Linked DNA regions of Homo sapiens: regions 1 and 3 are each reported to be linked to region 2. The links are microRNA targets in miRTarBase. Many come from high-throughput screens and were not tested one by one. Region 2 holds a microRNA gene; each other region holds the end of a gene's coding sequence.

What was found. Region 2 holds the annotated microRNA hsa-miR-6083 (CUUAUAUCAGAGGCUGUGGG, at 901-920, shown strand). A microRNA usually pairs through its seed, bases 2 to 8, with sites in the 3' UTR of a target mRNA and lowers its output. Matches are read on the target gene's strand: a 7mer-m8 pairs with bases 2 to 8, a 7mer-A1 pairs with bases 2 to 7 and ends in A, and an 8mer does both.
Region 1: the mRNA of TRIM23 is a reported target of hsa-miR-6083. Seed matches in the 3' UTR shown: 7mer-A1 at 2,580-2,586 and 7mer-A1 at 744-750.
Region 3: the mRNA of YWHAZ is a reported target of hsa-miR-6083. Seed matches in the 3' UTR shown: 7mer-A1 at 571-577.

The regions. Positions count from the first base shown.
Region 1 is chr5:65,589,065-65,592,329 of GRCh38, forward strand. TRIM23 (tripartite motif containing 23) reads right to left here. Exons shown (of 11, transcript NM_001656.4): 11 at 626-2,884. The coding sequence ends at 2,705. Among named protein-coding and RNA genes, the nearest start is that of PPWD1, 27 kb to the left of the region's middle.
Region 2 is chr3:124,373,508-124,376,772 of GRCh38, forward strand. MIR6083 (microRNA 6083) reads left to right here and starts at 825; the gene lies at 825-930. The region is part of intron 10 of KALRN (kalirin RhoGEF kinase); the gene reads left to right.
Region 3 is chr8:100,917,837-100,921,093 of GRCh38, forward strand. It overlaps YWHAZ (tyrosine 3-monooxygenase/tryptophan 5-monooxygenase activation protein zeta), which reads right to left. Exons shown (of 6, transcript NM_145690.3): 6 at 1-2,916. The coding sequence ends at 2,857. Among named protein-coding and RNA genes, the nearest start is that of YWHAZ, 33 kb to the right of the region's middle.

The DNA of each region.
Region 1 (3,265 bases), not on the chromosome of region 2:
TTCATCCTTATTCATTAGTCCTTTTCATCCTTTATTCTTTTAGGGAAGAATACAGCTGTCTTCTTCTTTGTTAGCACTTTGCCAATTGAGAAGTATCCCAGTGTTACATAAAAAGCCTTTCTCTTAGCAGTATTAGTTCATGAGCTACCACTAAGTTTTGCAAGCCATTTTCTAAAATGGTCATTTAAAATACTATGTTTTCTTATGAAACAAGTTTACATTTAAAATTTAAAAGGCAGTAACAAAGTTTCACTTCGTTCAATGTAAAACTTTAGCTCCGCCTTCAAAACACTATGGTTATATTACTTATTTAAATGTGGCCTGCACATTACTTCTCGGCCTTTTGGCTAAGATCAGGTGTAGTTAAGATCAAGTTTAGTATCTGTTCTCATCAGTAAATGTGGCCTATGTTGCAAATTCAAAACGTTATTTCTAAAATTTTGCTGTATCAAATAAACTACATCTCAAATTTGACAGGCATGCCAACCCATACCCATTTTGTTTTATTTTCTCTCCTAACCACAGCACAAATAATGACTTCTTAAATTGGTTACAACTAGCAATAATATTAGGTAGATGGTTCAAGAAAGAGACTTTCAAGAATAATGATGGGACTTCTTAAAAATGATCTTAACATTTTATTGCTGTCTATACTTATCATATATGTAGTGCAAATAATGGCTTCTGATGGTTATAAAGCATTCCTGAATTATAGACTACGGCTATACACTTGACATACCTGCTTTATATAACATACAGTAATATTTAGACCTAATACAGAAATTCAGCTACTAGGAAAATTCTAATATACTGTATATAAAAAAGCTCTCTTCTTAGTTTCCCAGGGAAGACTAGCACAGTCTTAACTAATGATTAGTGAAATAATACAACCACAAATAGTAATAGGAGCTTGAGAAAAATATTTCTTTAAAAATGAATCACACACAAACACCTACCATTATACATACATTATAATCAGGCACAATTTTTCAACTGTGTTCAGTTATATGCTAAGAATGTGCATTACAAAGTTTAGCAAAATTAGTGAAAAGGGAAGCAAGTTCACCTTAGTGTTACACTTTTTCTTCAATTAACTAGTAAACAGTTCAAGTTCTCACAAGCAATACAACACCTTTTTTATTTTTCACAGTTATTGAAATCAGTCAAATATTAAATAATTTAATTCGGAAGTATTATTTATGCACACAAACTACACCTGTAACAGCATGACCTTTTACCTGAAAAATAAAGGATGAAATATTACATTTATTTATTTACATATTGCCCATAATACTGATAGGCTTTTTTTTTAATGCTTTGTTTTCTAAAACTTGTATTGTTTTTAAACAAAAATAGATTTGAAAAGAATGAACCACAACAGTGCTACCAAAAAGTCACATCTTGTTACCAGACATCACTGTCCTTACAACAATTCAACTAATAAGATTTAAGATTTAACTTCATCCTAATGTATCAGAACATTAAAAAAAAAAAAGTCTCAATGTACCTATTTAAATAAATCGTGCTTCCATAATAATATTCTTTAAAAATGAAAAACAGTAAAGAGCACACATTTTTATTTACTCACAACACTGAATAATTAATGTAAACTTTTTGAATTTTTTTTTTCTTTAGACATTTTTCCTCTAGAGTAACTTTTCAAGGCCTTCTCATGAACAGCCTTAAGTTTTATTGTCAAAATAAATGCACTTATTTTGGGAAACAGTTTGAAGTAAGTAATAAGCATTTGCCACTGTACTTACAACTTCTCTTGAAGTTCGCTTTCTATTTAGGTCACTAGCTTTTAAATAAAGCCAACCCTGGTTCTGCGTTACTTACTACATTTTACCTATAGTCATTCCCACAAAGGATGCAATATTATATTAGAAAGAAATATTACTTTAAATTTGTTGAAAAATAGAAGGACCAATTTAGAGCTCTGACCTAGGTTCAGTCCTGGAAATGGGTCTTTCATAAATTCAGATCCAATTACTTCCACAGTTTTATTACTGTTCAGTTTATTACTAACCTGACAAGCCTAATTGGGTAACATTTCACTCCCTCATTGTGTTTTATACAAAATGCTGTAGGAGAAAGTTAATAAAACACTATATAAAGTATTAATTTTCTGTACCTTATAGTTCTTAGCATTAAAGGTGTTCTGTTAACTCTGAACATAAACATAAAGTAATCCTATTATCCAAATATGTAGTTTGGATTCTATTTCATTAAGCAACTGTCATTTCTACTACTAAATGCTGCCAACATTCAGTGAAAAGGCAGGTTAAAAGAAGCAGCTATACTTCACTTGCTTCACACAGAGGTCTCATTAGGCACTCAATTGGCTATTCTTTTTTCACTGAAAGAATAAACCTTCACTTACCCTTTCTCTGTGACTACCTCTTTCCCAGTATATTGGTCACATATTATCTGAAAAACTTAAATAACAAATATACTTTTTAAAAGAATGTATATTCAATAAGTTTCTATTTAATTCAATCTAATCTGCTCAATTAGAAATTTAATTCTGCCACAAAATTTTTTTAAAGCAAAGTACTGAATTCCCAATCCAAGATTCCTTTATATATATATATATATATATGCATCCTAAATTACCATCTTTTGAGATGTATAATTTCTTAAAACATACTATGTGCAAAGTTACTTTTAACCACAAAACTTCAAACAACTGCTGCCTTTAAAATCAAGCAACATCCAATACTCCAGCAGCTACAAGTTGCCGTGAGAGCCAGTCCAACCCTTCATACAGTCCCATACCACTTCGAGCATCACAGCCCTGAATATACCAGCTACGGCCACAGCATAATTTATGGAGACTGAGTAGTTCAGTGATTTCTTCTACTGACAGTGCTCCAGCAACATCCTGAAAGATATATACACATATTTTTTATCAGTCCATCCAAATTATAATTTTTCTAATTATCACCATTTATAGAGAAATTTGTTGACAGTGTTCTAACAGAAGCCTAAACAAAAAACCTAGATTCATCTTTCAGTAATTATTCTGAGATTAATAAGAATAGAAAAAATTAGTTTGGTTTAACTAATTTATATGTGTGTGTATGTATATACTTTGTAAGGCTAGCTTAACAATGAAATCAATAAAGTCCTTGCAACCTAAAAGGAAACATACTGCCTAAGTAATTTTTTTATCTTTTGAGACAGAGTCTCACTCTGTCACCCAGACTGGAGTGCAGTGACATGATCTTGGCTCACTGCAACTTCTGCCTCCTGGTTCAAGCGA
Region 2 (3,265 bases):
GGAGGCTAGAAGTCTGAGATTGCAGTGTTAGCAGGGTTGTTCCTTCTGAGGGCTGTGAGGGAGAATCTGTTCCAGGCCTCTCTCTTAGCTTCCAGTGACTTGCTAGTGGCTTTGCTGTTTCCTGGCATGTGGCTGCACCACTCCAACCTCAGCTTTCATGTTGCTCTCCCTGTATGTCTGTATCTTCATTTGGACATCTTTCTATATGAATGAACACCAGTCATACCACACTATGGGCCTACCTTATTTCGGTATGATCTCATCTTAACTAATTATATCTGCAACAACGTTATTTCCAAATAAGGTCACATTCTAAGGTACTGGGGTTAGAGCTACAGCATATCTTTTTGCAGGGACAGAATTCAACCCACAAGAGCCCCACAAGCAAAGAATTATCCAGTGCAAAATGTGAATGGTGTTACTGTTGAGAAACTCTGTTCCACATAATCTGTGGACCAAGCCCAGGGAGGTTAACTAAGGTAAAACCCAGGGCAAGTAGCAGTATGGTCTGAATGTCTGTGTTTCCTCCAAATGTATATATTGAAACCTAATTCCCAATGTGGTTGTATTATGAGGCAGGAACTTTGGGAGGTGATCAGTGCCCTTTTAAAGAGGTTCTAGAAAGCTAGCTAGTTCCTTCTACCATATAAAGACACAGTGAGAAGATCATCTGTGAACCAGGAATTGAAGCCCTCACCAGATACTGAATCTGTGGGTACCTTGATCTTGGACTTCTCAGCCTCTAGAACTGTAAGAAATAAACTTCTGTTATGTATAAGCCACCCATTGTAAAGCATTTGTTATAGCAGCATGAATGGTCTAAGGTAAAAAGAGTCCAGAGTCTGGGAAGGTGGAAAGGGAGCAGGAGCATCGTCTTTAAGAGGGTCAGGTACCTTTGCTCTTATATCAGAGGCTGTGGGCTTCCTACAGATGTATATAGGCATAACCTCAGGCAACAGAGATATATGTGACCAAAACAGGGTGAAAGGACTTGAAAGAGCACTATGCTAACAGGGATAGAAGCAGAAGTGTGGCCAAACCCTCTGATTTGGTCACCTCACCATCTGACCCACCTTTCCACGTCAGGAACAGCCTTTTCCTCTTTTCCTCCGTTAGGAATGGAACAGGAGAGAAAAATAAATCCACAAGCCCCACAGTTTTCAGCAGTATTTTCAAGCCAACTGTCTTGTCTCTCCAAAGCCCAGTCTTCTCTCTCTGACACCCACTCCCTCCCACTGCCAGCCAAACATAGAATACAGAAAACAGGAAAAACAGCAACACTGCAAAGTTACATCTTTTGAGAGAGAACATTGCTGTGGGTACATTTCCCCCCATACCTCTTGAATTGCCAAACCTTGCAGCAGGCAGCCTTATTCTGTTCCATGGGGATGCTGTCTCACCAACTGCTTGTTTCTTTGGCTTCAGGAATTCCATGCAAGAATGAATTTCTGCCGAGATGGGGTCACTGGGCAGTCTATGTATCCACATCTGTATATTTAAGTCTATCTTCTTCACTTTTAAAATATTTTTGTCCACATTTTTATGTTGTGGCTACATGTTCCCCTTCATTGTTTTGCCATTTCCAATAGAGAGAGGGAAATGAGGGAAGGGAGAGGGTGACCAGAGGAGTGGAGATTATGTTATCAAATTCCAGGAGAGATGGGTTGCTTCCGAGCAGCAATATGAATACCCGCTGGCTATATCCGGGGCCTGCTCAGTGGGAAAAGGAGGAAGCCTTCCTCCAGTCTTCAGAGCTCCGTGTCTGCATAGCGCACGCCTCATTTTGGTCTCCTAATTGCTCAGCTATCTTTGCTGTCTATTGTTCCCTCTGGTTTGTCTCAGGAAGCAGCTCTGGGCCAACCTCTGGCCTCTAGTCCCCTTGCTCTCTGCACCATCTTCTTTGTGTCCCATTCTAAGTGCTAGTCCTGGCTCCCCTAGGCCCAGCTTACAGCCCTGACTCTGCCTTCCACAGCTCCCCATTCCTTGGTGGGCTAGGTGGGGAGAGGTCAGGGACAGAATCTTTCCCTGCTATATGTCTCAGGCCCCAGAGGGTGGCCATGTTTTCTGGAATCTGGACTGTATTTTTCTTACAGTCTGGACCTGGTGTTATCTGTCAAATTATACCTTGTAACTAGTATTGGCAACCTCTAGGATTGACTTTGCCTTTTAATCCACAAACAAGGTATTTTATTGTTGTTGTTATTGCATGGATAAAATGTTAACAGTTAATTATTTCTTTTGCTTTCCTGCCTCAGAGTGACCAGATATTTAGCTTCTAGTTTATAGTCAGGAGGGAATATTTTGAAGGTCCTTTAAAGCAATAATATGTAAATGAAGAGAGTTATTGAGAAAGAAAGAAAAGGGATCAGTGAAAGAGAGCACCCCAGCAAAGAACAACTACTATAATTTTCTCAGAATTTCTAGGCCCATGTACCTTCCTAAACACACACGGTTGGACTGTAGGAAAATAAAACTTTACTTTAAAAAAAATGTGGAGTTCTAAAAATATGCCTTTTATAGGAAAAGGTGCTAAAGCATTTTAGATATAAAGAAAAATAGTCTCCAGCAAGTAGAGATGTGTGAGAATGGACAGGGTGATTATTACGTATGTAAATGTGATAAAGTTGGTGTTTAAGTCCTCAGAGATAGTCTCAGTACCGAAACTACTTGTGTTGGGAGGTATTGGCACCTGCAATAGTTATTTTTAGTATCAGTCCCAATTAGTAACTGAAGATTTATATACATAGTCTTCAACTTTAAGGTGCATCTCTTTAGGGTACTCCTTAGACACTTCTTATTTGGACATAAAGTTGTTCTAATGGAGGGAACTTACTTGTTCCCTTATTCAGGGCACCTAAGAAGATATTGTTCTTTCAGCAGTTGTAATGTGGTGGGTCAAACCATCACTGGTACCCAGAAGTAATTTCCTCTGTTTCTTCTTACTTCTTTCCACCAAAGACCACTTTGCCATTCCCAGAATTCATCCCCTTCCCCACTACAAGAGCCAACAGATGGAGGAGAAATATATTCCTGGAGTTCTAGGATGAAAACTGAAAAGCATTTTTCTATATCACCCTCCTTAATCATAGACAATGTGCTATGTCAGTACTATATTTTAAACCTATTATGTGCTCAACTGAATTGCTTTATTTTATCCTGGGATCCTAACCTTCATTTACATGGCAAACACATTCTGAGTGCTAAATGGAACTGGGAAATGTGACACCTTACTGCTGACAAGCTGCTGAACTGCAGAGTTTTTGGG
Region 3 (3,257 bases), not on the chromosome of region 2:
AATCAAGGAATAGTTACAAACACATTATTCAAATTCCAAAACAAAGAATCTCAGGTTGGAAATTTTCCTTAATCTATTGGGAACTACTATGTAGAAAACATTAGTTAATACTAGTGAAGTGTTTTCATTATTCCAGGATCAACCTAGTTCAGATGACTGATGCACATTAAATAGGCAAATGTGCCAAGTTTCAGGTTTTATTTACTTGAATAATATCACATCTCTACTGGGCGCGGTGGCTTATGCCTGTAATCCCAGCACTTTGGGAGGTTGAGATGGGCGGATTGCCTGAGGTCGGGAATTCAAGACCAGCCTGGACAACATGGTGAAACCCTGTCTCTACTAAAAACACAAAAATTAGCCAGGTGTGGTGGCGGGCACCTGTAATCCCAGCTACTTGGGAGGCTGAGGCAGGAGAATCGCTTGAACCCAGCAGGCGGAGGTTGCACTCAGCCGAGATCGCACCACTGCACTCAAGCCTGGGTGACAGAGCAAGACTCTTGTCTCCAAAAAAAAAAAAAACAACAAAAAAATTCCCACCTCTTCAGTCTAGCTATAAAATATAATTACTTTATATATATATATATATATATATATATATATATATAATTATTTTACCTCCTTGGCTTGGGGGTCAGGAGAAATCAGTAAGTGAGGTAAAAGAAAGAGCTGCGAGGGAAAAGGATTGTTGCCCTAGATGCAGAAGGTATCTTTTCTCCTGGAAATAAAGACCCCAAGGTCTCCATTGCACTTTTATTTGAATGTAATATTTGGGACAATTATTCAAAAGGGCCAATATTTCCCAATTTAATCTGAGGTCATAATAAAACAAGCAACAAAACAGTGTTTGGGATTTCAGTTTCTCACCCTTATCATCAAGACTCACTGCCTCCCATCATCAATATTTATTGAGCATTTACAGTGTACTAGGCACAATAGAACATACAGAAAACATTGTCCCTGCTCTTGAGGAGCTTACATTCTAAAAGAAAAAATACACCTTTTTTAAAATGGCATTTTTGTTTGGTGTTTTCTGCAAAGTACTGAGGAAATATTTTGTAAAGTGAGCTTTGGGTATAACTTAGCCCCATCATTATTTAGAGAATAGAGGAGGAAGAAAGAGGAAGGATTTTAAAGGCAGACAATGACAGACCATTCAGGATAGGTAGGGTTTTAAAGGGAGATAAACACAGTCTCATCAACTAAGGAGAGATTTGCTGCAGTAAATAGGATGAGGGAAATAGTCTGTGGGATGCAAGCAAAGGAAGCAGGGTGCCTTAGACACTGAGTGGAGCCAGAAAGATCATGCGGCCTTTTTCCAAGTACATGGCCACCAAGTAAGAATGGTTGGTGACAAGACAGAAGGCTAAAACAGGAAGGTAATCTTGTGCACCTGACAAATAGAAAGAATAAAGGATCAAAATTGAAGGCAGGCTATAAGAGTATCAAGAAATTCTTAAAAACCAAAAAGTGATTTGGAAGCACAAAACTTACAGTTAATGCTACCCAATGTCATGATGGGCCAAGAACATTGTGGCTTCCTAAGTTAGAAAATGCCATATGCCAAAATTTTAAATGGAACACACTACATTTTTTTCTAATCAATCCCCCCCTCTCCCAGAAAAAATAGGAACTCATTTTTTTCAGGGTGGGGAGGAAGAGAGGGGATCATGGGACATGGAAACAGTAGTTATATTAGTAGTATTTTTGTTATGATAAATTTTGTGTTTAAACTTGGTAAGAGCCCATTAGCTGCCAAGAGGGAATAAGGAATAAATTTCAAAAAATGTACAATTTCCTTTAGAGAAGTTTCAGAACCAAGACTAATTTACATGAAAAGCTGTAGAGAAAGTAGTTGAAAAGTCCATTCATAAAACTTTTATTCCACTTACATGAATTTAATACACGTGTTCTTAACAATTATGCTTGGATTGTTCATGAAAATTTCATAAGACATTAAACAAAGCTAGCCATCATCTCAAGTTATTTCCCTGTTAACTATTTTTACAGCACATGCATGTTAGGCAAGTATCAAAAAAAAAAAAATCACAAAAGCAAAAATCCTAAAAAAAAGTTAAATACATGGGTTTTTGTTTTACTGCTGTGCTTGATATACATGAAGTAATGAATACCAAGCAATTCATTTTTCCTGCATCTTTACTTTTACATTTGTTCTTAGGTTGCCTAAAACATTTAAATACAAATAAAATGAGTGTAGCAAAAATAATGAAAGCTAACAGCAGGTAACTTTACAAATAATGGAATGTGAACCGTTTCTGCCCTTATCCAGAGTAAAATGGGTCACAACTTTGTCTAAAGGAACACTTCTGCAGCTGTAGTCAAAGGTGTACACATTGAGTATTCCACAGATATACATGGTTTAATATGTGGTATCCATGGGGTATGATTCTACCACAGCCTTGTAAGTGCTCCAAACCTTAAAGTACCCACAATTACTACACCTGTGACTGGAACCAATGATCCCTTTTATTCCCCGCCAGGACAAACCAGTATGTAGGCAGTTTTCTTTGCTTAGACATGGAAGCAGTTTTACACTGGCCCTTTTGAAGCCACAATGTACCAAAAGTACTATGCCAAACACTTATAACTTGTATAAAAATTCCACATCCCCATATTGGCCACCTCAAGATGAAAACAGATAACTCCCTAAATGTTAACTGGCTCTACTCCCCTAATATTAAACATAAAAACCACATGGGAAATATAGAAATTCAAATAGAAGTAACATAAACCTGTCATAAATCGTAAACAAAAAACTATTTGTGGGACAGCATGGATGACAAATGGTCTACTGTGTAAATTTTAGAATGAGGCAGACAAAAGTTGGAAGGCCGGTTAATTTTCCCCTCCTTCTCCTGCTTCAGCTTCGTCTCCTTGGGTATCCGATGTCCACAACTGGTAAAAGAAGGAAAGATTTTTCAGCAAGTTTCAGTGGGATGGGGGGGGGGGGGCGTTTTCATATAAGTGCCAAGATACCTGAATGTTTTAGTTGGAAAGCATTCTTAAAAAGATAGCAGCATCACTTAGCTTCAAGATACAAAAACATCTCAATATACAAATTTACTTTTTTTGTAACCACTATATAAGCAGGTTAAGTACACCACAGAGTTGCCTTCAAATAACCTTCAGATACAGGAAAGTTTTGGTTATCCACAGAAGGTGAAGAGAAATTACAAGAAATAATACTTTTTTTTTGAGATGGAGTCTCGCTCTGTCACCAGGCTGGAGTGCAGTGG